Linked DNA regions of Homo sapiens. The protein of the gene in region 2 interacts with the protein of the main gene of each other region in a biochemical or structural test. Each region holds a gene or a part of one and is shown on either strand. Other genes may lie near its edges.

Region 1 (7,956 bases), on a different chromosome or scaffold from region 2:
GGGGCCACCCTGACCACCAGTGCCGACACTGCAGCACTCCGGCAGCCAGAGCCCACGGCCCCTGGCCCTGGTTGACCGGCCACCCCTGGGGCTTCAGGTCACACCCGGGAGCAGGGAGCCCCCTAGCAAGGGAACCATTGGCCCCTCACCTGATAACGCCCCACATCCTGGCCTCGAGTGACAGGGAATTGTTTTCCACCGACGTCAGCATAGAGAGCCATGTTCTGGGTGAGGGAACAAAGGCAGGGTCACCTTCTGCCCCCTCTGGGTGTGGGCAGAGGAGCCCTGTGCGCTGCTCACACGGCCTGCAGGTGGGCAGGCTAGGCCCAGTTGGGGGCTGCAGTGTCCCTGGCAGGAGGTACCAAGTAACACTCACCAATCCCGTGACTGGCCCTCTGCATTGGTCTTCCCTACGGGGGCACAAGGCCAGATCCCCATGGCCGGGCCTAACTGGACGCATAGGAACCCTGTTGACTGTGAGCAGGGGCGGGATGATCAAAAGGGCTGAGTGATTTCCTGAGTCTACAAGGGAGGTGCTGGGGTCAGGGGTGCCCAGTGGGCTGCCCAAGGGGTGCTTTACCCTAAGAGGGCCATACCCAAAAAAGGCCCCATTTCCTTCTTTGGACTTATGGGAACTTAGCTGGGCATGGTGGCGAGCACCTGTCATCCCAGCTACTTAGGAGACTGAGAGGAGAATCGCTTGAACCCGGGAGGTGGAGGCTGCAGTGAGCCAAGATCGTGCCAATGCACTCCAGCTGAGGCAACAGAGTGAGACCCTATCTCAAAAAAACAAACAAAAAACAAAAACAAAAACAAAACACCCACACAGACAAACTGGCCAATGGCAACCGGGGTGGGCTGACTCCTGGCCCTTTCTCCCGGTCCAGATACTCATTCAGGAAACAGCGGGTGGTGAGCCCAGGGTTACCTCGTGTAGGCACAGCACACAAAGCAGGTGAGGAAGGTGACCTGTCAACACTGGCTAGGATCTGGCATCACCGTGCCCTGATCTCTCCGGCACCCCAAGAGTTGGAATCTTGATTCTCCCTCTATCGACACAGGTCCCCCATCAACTAGCAGTGAGGAGCACCCCCCACCCGCCCTCCTGTCTGAAACCCCACTGTCTCACCTGGACCCTGTTCTTGCATGTCAGGGAGATCTCCACAATGAAGACGGTCTCAGTGGAAATGACAGCGTCAGAAGTGGTGTAGTAGGAAGGGGTGATCTGGGGCTCCAGGCAGGCCTCGGCTGCGGGGAAGAGGGAGAGATGCCTGGGTAAGGCCAGCTCGAGTATCCCGGTCTGAGGGCAGGATGGCCCGGCCCTGCCTCATAGCACGGATCAGCTGGGGACCCATGCGCTCTTCCTGCCCCTTCCAGGTGGGATATGCGAGACAGATCCAAGTGCTCGGTCACAAATGCAATGGCAACGTAGGCGGGATGGCTGTGAAGGAAGGCTGGGGAGGGGCAAGGCCGGCTTTCTGGAGGTGTGCAGGAAGAGCGAACTGGGGACAGGTGGGGGCTGGATTCACTGGACAATACATGCCAACACTTGGACCTATGACACGGAGGCCCGGGGGCCACGCCAGCCTCAATTCAGAGCCACAAACGGCCTGGACGAGTTACTGAAGGCATCCTCAGCAGAGACATCGGGGGTGGGGGCTGCAGGCAGGCAATGCACTGGGGCTTTCAAGATGAGAGAAAGGGTCTCTGCCCCCGGCCAGTTGACAGAAGGTGAAGACTGGCCCCAGCGTTTCCTGAAGAAGTAAACGGGAGAGACTCTGGTTCCAGAAGCACAACTTGTTAGCTGTGAGAGAAAGGACCTTGCCTTAGCCTTCTCCATAACCAGAGGCCCAAAGGAAAGGAAGGCTGCCGCCTACATCAGAGGGTGTGAAACAAAGGCTCCCCAAAGTGGGAATGTTCTCAGCCACCCGCTGTCCAAATGTGGTGCCCTGGCAGAACGATGGCTTCAGCAGAGGACGTCAGAGAAGGCTCTGGGTCTGGACCACAGGAGGCAGATCCCTAGGAACAGCGTGGAGGCAGTTCTCAGGGGCTAGATCCCGCCAGCCCTTCTGTGTCCTGCCTAAGTTGGGCCTGCTTCCTGTGGCGCAGGGGAGCCCCCGAAGGGTTTTATGGCCAGGCTTGTCCTCTGGATACGTCCCTGACTATAGTTCAGGGAATTCCTGAGGGGCAGATGAGGAGTGTGCGGAAAGGGAGGCCAGTTAGGCTGCCAAAACGTTGCAGGCAGCAAGGCTACTGGCCTGAAGGACGGCAGAAAAGGGAATGTGGAGAAAGCCGCCCCTGTCCAGTCCTGGCCCCCGGGCCCGGGGCTGGCTGCTGCAGCCACCTCCTAAACACACTCTGGAGTTCAGACCTCAGCCCCTCACGAATGCAAATCGACGGGACCCCTGGTCGGCTCTGCCGAAAACTCTGGTAAGGGTAAGGCAGGGCCCTCCGGAAAAGCCAGTCTTCGGCCTGGCACTCAAGGCCCTGCGCACCTTTGGCTCCCCATCTAACTCGCCCCGCTCTTGCTCCCTCTCCTCACTGAGGTCCCTTCCTAGCTTATGTGGCTCCTCCAGCCCCGTTTTTGGCCGCGATCGCTCAGCGCTACAGAGCTTCGCTCCGGTCCGACCCCGCAGGGAGCGGGAGCCGGGACATGTGTCACGTTCCGTGCTGCAGCTTGGGGGCCGGGCGCACCATGGAGGCTCGGGGACTCCTCTTCGTATGGGCAGACAAGGAAAAGCCTGGCTGCCGGTAAACGTGCGCGAGGTGCTTTGGTCCCCCCGTCCCAAGGCCGCCTGCCTCTCGGGGGAAGGCCCGGCCCGCAGCGACGGACCCTGAAAGGCCGGACCCCCGCATCCCTCCTGCCCCCAACACCACCTGCCGTGGGTCAGAGGCTCGCAAGAAAGAAGCCCCGGCTGGGCCGCTACCTGAGCAGCGGGAGAGGCTGGACAGCAGGAGCAGCGCCAGGGCGCCGAGAGATGCCATCGCCGCCATCGCCTCTTCTCTGCCTAGAGGAAAAGAAAACGAGCTCCCATGAACACGAGGGGCAAACGAGGAAGAGCGACGCGTAAGTGGCAGCGGCAGCCAATCGCGCACCGAACGGCTGGGCCGGCATTGTGACGTCTCTGGCAGCACTGACGTGGCCCCTCCCTGAGCCAGGGGCCCAGCTGGTCGCGGTCCCCCCCTCAACATGGCGGCAGCGGTGCTCTAGGCGCCGGAAGGGGGCGTGAATCGGTGCGACCGCGCGCGTGCGCAGTACCGGGTCCGCGCCTGTCCCCGAAACTTCGCACCCCGTCGAACTCTCGCGAGAGCGGTATCTGCGTGTCGGGACGTGCGGAGGCTCTCACTTTCCGTCATGGCGCTGAAGGTAGCGACCGTCGCCGGCAGCGCCGCGAAGGCGGTGCTCGGGCCAGCCCTTCTCTGCCGTCCCTGGGAGGTGAGCAGGGAAAGAGCCACGGGACCGCGGCAGCGGTCGCAGGGGAGCGGTGGGGTAGCCGCACCCGAAGCAGTCTGGAGTCCGATTGGCTAGGGGCCCCACCAGGGGCGGGGAAAGGGCTTCGCGCCGGGGTTGATTGGCCGCCTCCGCTGTCACTGAGGGGATTGGCCGAAGTTGGCCCTGGACCGGCTCCCCCAGGGGGTCTGCATCGGGTGGCGGGGGGCCCTCCGGACGGGCCGGGAGAGTGGGCCACGGCGGCTGTCACCTCCTTAGTGTCCTTGAAGGAGCCCTTCTGAGGCAGTCACTCACGTATCCCGGCCCGCCTTTCTCAAACCGCTTCGGGAATCCGGTTCCGGGACTCAAATTTCTCCACGGTTTCCTCTCTCGTGGACCGCTTTGCCACCTATCCCGGTGGCAAAGAACCGGACTTTGCCAGTCATCCCCCATAGTCCCCCAGTCTTAGAGCCCCAGATGCCTTCCCCTCGAGGCGCCTGGAATGGGAAGGAGCTAGGGTTTCTGAGGCTGCGGGGGTTTTGCTTCTGCTCTTCTCCGTGTGCGGTCTTGCGTATTCAGGTCCGAGTCTTCTTTCCTTACACTTATTTAAGAAGAGGTTAATTTAGGTCCTAGGTGGGCTGGAAACCATCTGAAGCAGCTGCCAGCCAGCACCTGGCCCTGATGGGTAAGAGGTTTGACCTCTAGGCCATGCTCCCACACTGAGCCACTGCGTGGCCTTAGGCCATTTCCTCCTCTCTCTGGGTTCTAGTTTCCCCTTTGGAACCCAGAGGGGAGGAGACTTCATGTTCTCAAAGGATCCTGTCAACTCTGACCTTCCAGAACTCCGTGACTTTGCGGCCACTCCCCAGGGACATCTCTACTTGCCATGTTTTCTCCTTCTGACCTCTGGGGGAGACTGCTTGTGCCTAATGAAATTCTCTTGACGATGCTGACTTCTCCCACCTTGCTGCTGAAAGGACGGCAGTATATAGTGGCTTTCCAGAGGCTCTGATGGCTCCAGCAACTGGGCTCCTGTAGGCTCTTGGTGAAGACATGTGTGCCTCCTCCCTGACCTCCCCTGTGTGTGTGCCTGTGTGTGCGTTGGGGTGGGAGTAGGGGACAGTGAACGGTGGGTAGCTGGGCAGTGCCTTGCCCTGAGACTGACCGTCCTGGGTGTGAGAACCCTTACAGAGGAACCCCAGGTCTTGAATCCCACTGATTTGGACGCCATAGGAAAACATGCAGCCACCATTGACACATGGTCCAACAGAAATATGCCAAAGACAGAAGCCTCAGCAGGCATAAGATGTGGGGTGTGGATGTTCTTTCTTTCCATGGAACCATGAAAGGGTGATGGGAGAGCGGGAGGCGTGTACATATTGCATCCTGCCTCACACTTGGCTCCTTTGATTGGTGGCTTCACAGGGAAGTCAGGGCACAAGGCAGAGCCTTTGCGACCTCCTGAAGGAAGGTGCCTGCATCTGTACAGTAAGGTCAGGGAAGTCCATCTGGAGCGCTCTCTGGGTCTTTTGCCAAAGCCCAAAGGAACACCTGGCACAGGGACCGGGTGGCAGAGAGGTTCAGCTCAGCCCTGGTGGTGATGTTGCCATCTGTGAGGGAGGTCCATGCTCTCAGGAGATTGGCTTGCTGCCACAGCTGAAGCCCAGGAGGAACTACTGCTGGGAGCTGCAGGGGTCCACCCGTGACCTCCCAGGGACACCAGCCTTGAACTCTGACCTGAGGGGCCAGTGGGGTGAAGGGGCAGGCGTGCTGTGTGGCACTAGCTACTGTGAGCAGCTCACACACCTCCTGTCCCCTAATCTTTCCAACAGTCACGGAAAGTAGGTACCTCCGTTCTGTGAATTTCAGATGAGGCCATGAAGCCATCTCAAGAAGAGTGGATGGTGGATTTGGACCGAGGCCTCCCTAGTCTCCAGATCTTTTTTCATTTTCTGATGTGCTTGTTCACTCAGGAAATGTTCCTTATGTGCCAGCTCTGGGCCAGGTACTGTGCTGGGTCCTAGGGTGACAGTATTGGACCACACTGACTTGGCCCCTCCTCTCGGGCTCAGGGGTTGAGGAGGGAGCAATGCAGTGATAACCTAGGGAAGGGGGTAAGTAGGGCCTTAGGGTCCCAGCTCAGTAGCCTTAGGGCATCAGGGAAAGCTCCCTGGAGGAAGGTCCATCGAAGCCGCTTTCTGCGTGCTTACAAGAGCCCCCAAATAAGATGATTTCAGATGTTGATAAGCGCTAGAGAGAAGACAGAAAAGTCCCGACCCGTTGATAAGCGCTAGAGAGAAGACAGAAAAGTCCCGACCGTGCCTGTGCTTGCAGATCCAGGTGCCACACAGATCAGCTGAGCTATCCTCGGGGCTCTGGTCCTTGTGGGCACCCTCTCCTAGCCCCTGGCTTGGACTGATGAGTGCCGGCCAGGGACACACAGACAGGGAGAGGTCAGACTCCGCCCGAGCCTTTCTGGACTTCTAGCTGGAAGGCATGGCTCTTTGGCCAATGGCTATGATGCTTCTGCCATTGGCTGGAACACTTTGCTGCTGCCTGGTGGTCAAGTGGCAGGGCATCCCCAAGTGACAGGGAAGACCTTGGCTCTGCCACCGTCTCAGGTGTGTTCTAGGTGGGGCTTCTTCCAGGACAGCAGGTCACTTGGCACCTGGCACATTTGGCTCAGGCAGCTTTGGCTCTGAAGCTGTCCGGCATTTCCAGTCAGGGCGTTGGGGACATTCGGCATCCAGCAGTCCTTTCCGAAGGCCTTCCTAGAGTTGGGTTTCTGTTATCAACCTTCCAGAAATGGCTGGATGTCCCTACACATTTGTTTTCGATTTCTAATGCCGAAGGGCCATTCCCCAGGGGGCCAGCAGTGCTTGTCTCAGGGAGGCCGGAGGCTGGGTGCTACCTTCTTATCTCCCTATTCTGCTTTTTCTGTAGCGACCACATGCTGCTTTTGTAATAAGAAAAAGTGATCGGCGAAGTGATAACGTGACTGTTGTCATGGATCTGTGGTTTGTTGTAATGATTTCCCTGCTGTACCAGGGTTAGTTTGCCAGTTTTTGCATGTTACAAACATCGCTGAGCGGGAATAACTGGCCAAAAAAATAATCAGAAGCAAAAAAGAGGAGGGAGGGCAGGGACACGCCTTTTAAGAAATTTTCTGAAGAGCGGAAGGAGGCAGGAGGCTGGAGCGCCTTCTACTTTCCAGGTGCTCCAGCGGGCCGGCCCTGGGGACTGAGGCTTTGGAGCTAATTATCTATTGTGCCCCTGGCAGTGGGCCATGCTGCACAGACAGGGGACCTGCCTGGGCACAGTGGGGACGGTCCGTTTTTCCTTCCAACTTGGCTTTCTGGGTTAGACATCAAACCAACCGCTGGCATTTGGTCTCTGCCAGGTTCTAGGCGCCCACGAGGTCCCCTCGAGGAACATCTTTTCAGTAAGTACCTGCCCGTGCCCACGCATGTGTCTTTCTCCATGTGGCCGCAATTGTGCGCGTGTGTGCACGGCCTGTGTCCTGTCCTCTGAGACGTGGTCTCCAGGGGCTACCCACCCCTCTTCTGGGAGTTGTACTAGCCAGCATCCCCCTGGGAAAAGGTCCCACTTTCCTGGTCACGGCCTTGCTCTTGGAACCTTGGCTGATTGTGTCTTCTTCCTTTCTCATCCTTTCTAGGAACAAACAATTGTGAGTATTCTTCTCTGCCTGTTAGGTTTGGGGGGCTCTTAGTTGCTTTGGGGTTAACTAAATTCCAGGTGGGGGTGGGCTGCTGCTGACCCAGGAGCCCTGGATGAGCAGCCCTGTCTGGGACGGGGCTGCCCCAAGTTGGCACCTTGTGACGGGGCAGCCTGTGGGGTCAGCGCCAGTGGGAAGAAGGGAATTGGCTTGAGCCCATGGGGGCCGAGCTGGGGGCATGTGGGATCCCCGAAGGCCCACCTTCACCCTCTGCCTCCCACAGCCTCCGTCCGCTAAGTATGGCGGGCGGCACACGGTGACCATGATCCCAGGGGATGGCATCGGGCCAGAGCTCATGCTGCATGTCAAGTCCGTCTTCAGGTATGGAGCTCCTGGGTCCCCGCCTTGTCCTCAGCCAGGGGGCCCTGAGGACTTTGTGCCAAGAGGGGCATTGCGCCCAGAAGCACTCGGTGAGGCCATGGCAAGACGACCTGTAAGCCCAGGCCTTGCGTCCCATGGCCTGTGATCCCGCCAGACTGGCCTGGGCTCGGGGAAGGTGGCACCAGTCCTGCCACAGTGTGCATTGTGGAGTTCAAGCGTGTCCCCATCAGTCAGTGAAGGTGGGCCCAGTCCCTTCTCAGTCAGAGCCAGGTCAGGGCAGGTAGCAACAGGAGAGAGGTAGCCTGGGCAGGCTTCCTGGAGGAGGTGCGGGGGGGTCTGGGCCAGCCTCCCTGACCCTGCCGTGCCTCAGGCACGCATGTGTACCAGTGGACTTTGAAGAGGTGCACGTGAGTTCCAATGCTGATGAAGAGGACATTCGCAATGCCATCATGGCCATCCGCCGGAACCG
Region 2 (7,017 bases):
TCTCTCAAATTGGAAGTCTAGCACTCTTGAAAATCAAATTCACACACACACAGACACACACACACACACTTACAAACTGCACATTAGGACATGAGGGCAATTTAATGGAAAAAGAAAATAGAAACTGAAAGGGCATTTGTAAAATGTAGGATATCATTTGGACAACTGGATAGAGTAGGCAGAAAATCCTAAAGGTGTACATAAAAAAATAGCCAGTAAATGATAGGCTACAGAAAACCACACTGAAACATTTGATGAATTTCACTGCAGTAAACAGACTTGGCAAACTGAAACACTAGAACCATGACTACAAGCCTCACTTCATTCCACACAAATAAAATCTCTAACCATTATAAGCACAGATGAGAATCCTCATGCAACAGAGGAAATATAAATTATTTTTAATTTTAAAAAATAAAAAATATAAATTCTTGTTAAACACTTGATTTAAAAATATGCAGCTTTATTTTTAAATGTAGTTATGCTCAAAGATGGCAGTTTACTTATATGTAAAAATGTTTTAAAAATATCAATATATTGGTTTATAAGTTCTATACTGCCCTCAGCTAAATATTTTTCACCAAAATTCTCAAATAACTATCAAAAAGAGTTGCATGTTTTTATAAGCCCACTATAATTACTAAACGCGGTAATTTTCAGAGCTAAAGGTGAATCATTAATGAAATATTTTTTGATGTGATAAAAGTCACATGAGCATTTGAATTTAAAGACAACTGATAAGCCAACAGCAGCCTTTTTTTGGCAGGTGTTAAATTAATTTGCTCTAAATTGAGCAACTGTTTGGGAACTACAAAAACTGAAAAGTTCAAACTATAAGGAAGTAGAAAGGTGATGAAGTTTACTAATACAGTGTTTCACACATTCTATTTAACACAATTCCAAATGCAAATGTTTAAGATGATTTTTGAAGAGAAACATCTACAATGTTAAGCTTGTCTATGCTAAACAAATGTAACTTTAATTTACATGTATCATCCTAATGTCAACAATATTTAGACATTCATGATTAAGCCACTGAATTCGAAAGGATTCTCAATAACTACATGTAATCTGCATCTGTGGCATTAGAAAGTAATCAAATCACTGTCCGTTTTCTGATGCAATGGAACATCCTACAAATTCATGACAGATATACTAAGCTAAAAAGCTTTGAGATCAGGTACAGTATAAATTTCATTTTTAAAGAATATACATGGATATACAGAAGAAAACATGATTGTATAGTCACTAACATATTAACGATGGCTATGTCTCCAGGTGATAGGATTATGAGTGATTATTTTATTGTTGTTGTGATGGGGAAGTAGTCTCAAAATACCTAGCTTAACAACCAGAGTACTACCACCAAAGCAAACTATTTTGTCCTTTCCTGTCTTCACATTACAAACTTTTTAAAGCTACCAACCAATATGAATTTGTCTGACTGGCTACCCACATTCTGATATACATATTAGAAGGAAGATCTTTTGGAAGATGGAAAAACAGCAAGATTATGGTCATAAAAGAATAATATGCTCTCAAAAATAAGCAACAATCATTAGGCTTTCTATAGCCACATACAATTAATTCTATAAGAAAGTTGGCTCCAACATTTCATCTTTAAAAGACTTTTTCCATTATCCTGTTTCCTGGTTTTCAGGTACTGTCCTTACAACAGTTTGGACTGAATATTCTTGTTTCCATTCACAAACATTTCTTTCTGAACTAGCAACAGCACTAATCAATAGCTACACTTAAGCCATTTAAGACTAAGCTTTAGATGTGTGTCTAATTATCTGGCAAAAATAAAAGAACCAAAGAGTTTCATGTTAGCAGCAAATTAACTAGATTTAAGGGTCTTGATTTTTTTCATAAGCCTTTGGAAGCCTGCATATTAAACACTGGTGAGTTTTAAATTCTCAATGGAAATGGTGATGGCATTTACTGAACCAAGCCAGCTCATATTACAACGTACAAAGGACATGATATAAAAACAAAACTAGCACATTTCTATTTTTCAAACATCACCAAAATGTCTTCTTATAAATTAGAATACTTTTAGACTCCAGTATAGTTTTCAACCATACGTATACCCAAGATACCGAAAAATAAAATGTGTGTACACATACACTTCATATTTTACATTATTGCACATTTTTTCATTTACTTTTTAAAAAATTACATGGAGAAAATGTAAACTTGAAATAATAAGTCCCACTGTAACATTGTCTACTTTATTTTTTTAACACTTGTACAAACTACACTTTCTTATTACCTTACTATGCTTTGTTGAAAGGATATGCTTTAGTCTTCAAGCTTTTAAGAATATTAGAAACAACATGATTAAATTCAAGTACAAAAAGTCCTTTAGACTATTCCGAAATATCAATTTTTATATGGCACAAGTCATGATGAGTAAATGAAGCTTTCCATATGCTGATGGCAGAGTACAGAATAATAGACAAAAGCCACAAAATTGAAATCTAAAGTATCAAATCCATTCTGGGGAATTATCTTCAAACATCTGTCATAATAAAAATATGCACAATTTTCTAAGAATCTTGGACTTTTTCAGGACTAGAACGCTATTTAATGTGCTTATACAATTTATGAAGTGATGACTAAAGCCCTAAAAATAAGTGTTTTTCCTTAATTAAACATGAGTAGACAGATACTCTACTCTCAGGCCATGTTTTTTTTTTTTTTTTTTTTTAAACAGTAGGCTTTGAAGGACAGCAGGAAAAAAAAAAACTGAAAACTTTGTATTCACATTTGGCTGCCCATTAATTAAAACTTCAATGGACTTAAGCAATTTGAATTATAAACTCTCATTTAATAAAACACCCACACAATGACAAGAATGAGACTTTAATCAGTTTTAAGTGGAGTTTATAACACTAAGAGATAAAGGGTTGTTAACAAACACAATAACAAATGGACATCTGATTGGGATGAGGCATTATCCTGTACACATCATATTGGTATTTTTGTGTATCCTCAGTGCATAGCATTTACACACAGAGCCACTGCTGCACAGCACAAGAGTATCTGAAGAGGCTGAATCAGAGTAAGGCTGTTTAACAGACTGAAATTTTTTAGTATATATATTCTATATGAAAACAGGTTGAACTTTTGAACTGGCAGGTAGAAGGCAACTCTGCCAAATACTACAGTTAAAGCCCCCACTTTAGTGCACAGTTCCACCCCTTCCATCTGCATGCATGACACATTAACAGTATTTAAAGGTAAACGAGGCACTTTGTGGCAACCACAGCCATCGTTATGAACATATTGCACAAAATTTCTAGAACTAAACATTAAACTTGTACCCTACTTTTATTTTTTAAAGCTGAAACATTTGATGCTGCCGGTAAACTCCACTTAAGTTTATAACCTGTGCCACAGCAAAGAATGGTGATGCTATTTATTCAACTACCCTTTTAAAAGTATGGCAAACATGTTCAAGAGGAGCTACAAAGGACTTGGGATGGTACAGGGCCCAACTGTAAGCTTTCTTAAAAGTGATGCCTTCAAGTAACTTCAGACATGTAAGCTGCTGCACATCCAAAAAGTCTAAGAAAATATTCCAGAAACTCAGAGATTACCTACAGAATGCATTTCAGGCTAATTATGAATACTGCCATAAATAAAGTTTTAATTAGGACTCGAAAACCTTTCAGTCATAGCAATTCTTGTCAAATTCTATGGGGATGGTAACTGAAATAAAGTAAGGAGAGTATGTATAATATATATTTATATATATAATATATATAATGCCATTTTTCCATTTCCAATGACTACACCATAAAATGTAAGCAAGGCTTCTCAAAAACATTGAAACATTCAAAATCAAAACCCTCATTCAGACCTTCACATTCCAAAGGAAAAATAATAACAGTGCAAAAGCCCATTATAATGTCATTATTTATGACCTGGCCCTCCATGTTACATATTGGAACAATAAAGTTACGTTTTAATATGCGGTGCCCGAAATTGTAACAAAGAACAATATTTATAACTATCTTCAAAACATGAAGTTGATTTTCATTTTAGGTAACAATTTTCAGCTTTTATGAAAGACAAGGTGGCATATAAATTTCAATGGTGAGGTGTTAGAATAGTTGTCTCTAACTTTACCAATTTAACTTATGAGCAATCAATCAATACTCTATATATCAATGTTTAAATATAAATGTGTAAATCCTAAGAGCTTTGTTAAAAATTTAAAAATTGTTGAATGAAACTGACAAGGTATGGAAAACGTGTCAACATTATTTACTAAGAATATTTTAGATGAAGTTCTGCCTAATCTATTTGCCATCAAACTCTATAAATGCTGCTCTAGTAGGTCCTATTCAATCTGTATTTGTAAATTAACTAGGTCAGACCACAGCTAGTGAACAATTTCAGCACCAATAAGTTATTGAAAATGGAATTTTATACCATTAAGAAACAAAATGGCTGGATATTCAAATGTCAAGGTGAAGGTATAATTTGAAGACACCAAATTTCTGGAAAAAAAAACCTTTTTAATAATATCTTCACATTAGCTTTACAATAGTAGTTGTACTCCGCTTAAAATCGTATGCAGTCTGGGCATATCAAATATATGATGATTTTTTTTAAGAAGTGAAATTGAAGCCCTAGTCCCAACTCGGGGGAGCACTATGAAGAAATGATTCAACACTGCACATTTAAAAAAAAAAAAAAAAAAAAAAAAAAAAACCCTATTCTTTCAATAGCAAATCAATAAAGCACATGTAGGACAATTTCTACTGAAAAATCAAATGTCTTTTTTTTGTGTGCAGCATTGAAAGTTTACTGCAACTCTAATTTCCTTTTTAACACAAATGTCCTTTTTAATATAAACATTATATGTATTCAGTATTCAAGTAAAATTCCCTAACAGTTAATGACATTTAAAAAATGTGCAAAACTGCAAAATTCATTGTAATAGAATGTGTAAGGTCAAAAGGGTGGAACGGCTGACAGCTATTGAATAAGTGCATCATAAATCTTCAAAGAAAAAAAACGCTTACTGTAGAATCTCAAATTGAAAATTTCTGTGCAGCATTACAAAATATTTTATATTTAATGAGAAAAAAGAAGCTTGCAGGCAGCACATGAAGCATCCACAGCAGGTATTATGATTGAAAACTAGTAAAATAAGTGTAAGTTGTTGACTGATGTAGGTACTAACAGCATCTGAATTTTAGCACTGGCCTTGATTACACAGGAGATGGAGAAGTCGTTACAATTGAGAAAACATATTTAATAAATCATTGTCAATTTTTATAATGTTTCAAGCCCATTCTTTGTTGATAGCCTCCACATTTATATGGTTAAGTCATTGTTGCTGTGTTTCTTACCTATGACATTATTTTTATATCCCTTCATTTGTGGATCTTAAGATGTTGCAGAAGGTTCATTCCTGTACCCCAATACAGATTCACTTCCTTTAGCTGCCTTTTCTAGCACCAATATGCTTTAAAAAAAAATGCGCAAACAACAAGCAGTGACAGCGGCCAATTCCTCGAATGTCCAGATTAATAACTGTAGCATGCTAAAGAAAGGTGTGTGTAAATAGCTGGAGATGGTATATGGTCCAGAGTCCAGCATAAAATTATTTCCTTTCTGAGCATTCCCTCCATTCCCCTAACCCGAATACATGCATTAGAATGTAGCAAAACCCTTCGGAAACCTCTCTTAGCCAACTGCAAACTTATCTGTTGCCACAAGTGCAAAGGGGTAGGATGTGAACCAGTATATCACAAAGCTCTTTAGCCACTTCAGTTGGTGACAGAACACAAAAGGAAAAAATTCCTACGTATACACATCAGTCTGTCTCCACTTTTTATAAAACTGGAATAAAACGGGAAAGTGCCATCTTTATTAATCCTAATTGAATTTTAAATGTCCTTTTGACACAAAAAGGTATATACATGACACAGCTACACAACCTTTTTTCAACTGGACAACAAGTGTCAAAACCCTGTGGATGTATAGGGTAAAACAAGATTGGTCAGGAAAAGAGAATTGTTCCTATAACTGGTAATCTGACACAATGTCCTATTGCCATTAAAAAAAAAAAGGTCCATTTTCAGTTTATTCAAGTTTATTTTCATGGTGTTTTATCCCTCTTGATAAAAAAAAATTCAGACTTTTGTAATTTGTGTATGCTGATCTTCATCAAAAGGTTCATTCTCTGGATCAGAGTCAGTGGTGTCAGAATATCTATAATGATCAGGTTCATTGTCACTAACATCTGGTGTTACAGAAGTTGAACTGCTAGCCTCTGGATTTGACGGCTCCTCTACTGTTTTTGTGAAGTACAGCTTCACCTAGAGAAAGAAAATTTAAAATGAAAACCCACAAATATGACTCATCTTAAACTATTTAGTGAAATATATTTTTAACAGATTTTTTATTCCATTTTGCAGATGAACATATTAATTTTTAAGCACTGTAACAAACATGATCTTTAAGAGGCCTTTTAAATGACCCTCTTCTTAAGATGTTCAACATTTTCTTTCTTGCTAGGTACTAAACAGATAAACTATCAGGATGTTAATACAATTTATTTATTTTTATTTCTGGAGACAAGAGTCTTGCTCTGTTGCCAAGCTGGAGTGCAGTGGCATGATCTTGGCTCACTGCAACCTCTGCCTCCCGGGTTCAAGCAATTCTCGTGCCTTAGCCTCCCAAACAGCTAGGGCTACAGGTGTACACCACCATGCCCAGATAATTTTTTGTATTTTAGTAGAAATGGGGTTCATGATGTTGCCCAGGCTGATCTCAAACTCCTGAGCTCAGGCAATCTGCCTGCCTCAGCCTCCCAAAGTGCTGGGATTACAAGTGTGAGCCACCACGCCCAACCTCAATTTTATTTTTTAAGGAATATAAGTGGCAAATATTAACTAAATAATTATACAAAATAAATGCAGATTGAAAGTCATCAATAGTTTACATAATATAGCATTTGAATTACAAAATTCAATTCACAAACAGCTGAGTTCA

What was found. Proteins that work in one complex are often made in the same cells at the same time.
Region 1: the proteins of PTEN (region 2) and SSR4 form a complex in vitro, tested with the Homo sapiens proteins (2 studies listed by BioGRID).

What each region holds. Positions count from the first base shown.
Region 1 is NC_000023.11:153,789,726-153,797,681, reverse strand, and holds the start of SSR4 (translocon-associated protein subunit delta isoform 2 precursor), read right to left. Parts: upstream 3,015-7,956; 5' UTR 3,009-3,014; coding exon of another isoform or gene 2,995-3,008; coding exon 2,928-2,994; intron 2,020-2,927; exon of another isoform or gene 1,826-2,019; intron 1,249-1,825; coding exon 1,130-1,248; intron 225-1,129; coding exon 150-224; intron 1-149. Other genes in the region: IDH3G (isocitrate dehydrogenase [NAD] subunit gamma, mitochondrial isoform a precursor), read left to right, coding at 3,356-3,436, 6,831-6,872, 7,107-7,118, 7,390-7,487, 7,858-7,956. UniProt on the Homo sapiens protein: TRAP proteins are part of a complex whose function is to bind calcium to the ER membrane and thereby regulate the retention of ER resident proteins.
Region 2 is NC_000010.11:87,964,611-87,971,627, reverse strand, and holds part of PTEN (phosphatidylinositol 3,4,5-trisphosphate 3-phosphatase and dual-specificity protein phosphatase PTEN), read right to left. Parts: intron 6,342-7,017; coding exon 6,156-6,341; 3' UTR 1-6,155. UniProt on the Homo sapiens protein: Dual-specificity protein phosphatase, dephosphorylating tyrosine-, serine- and threonine-phosphorylated proteins.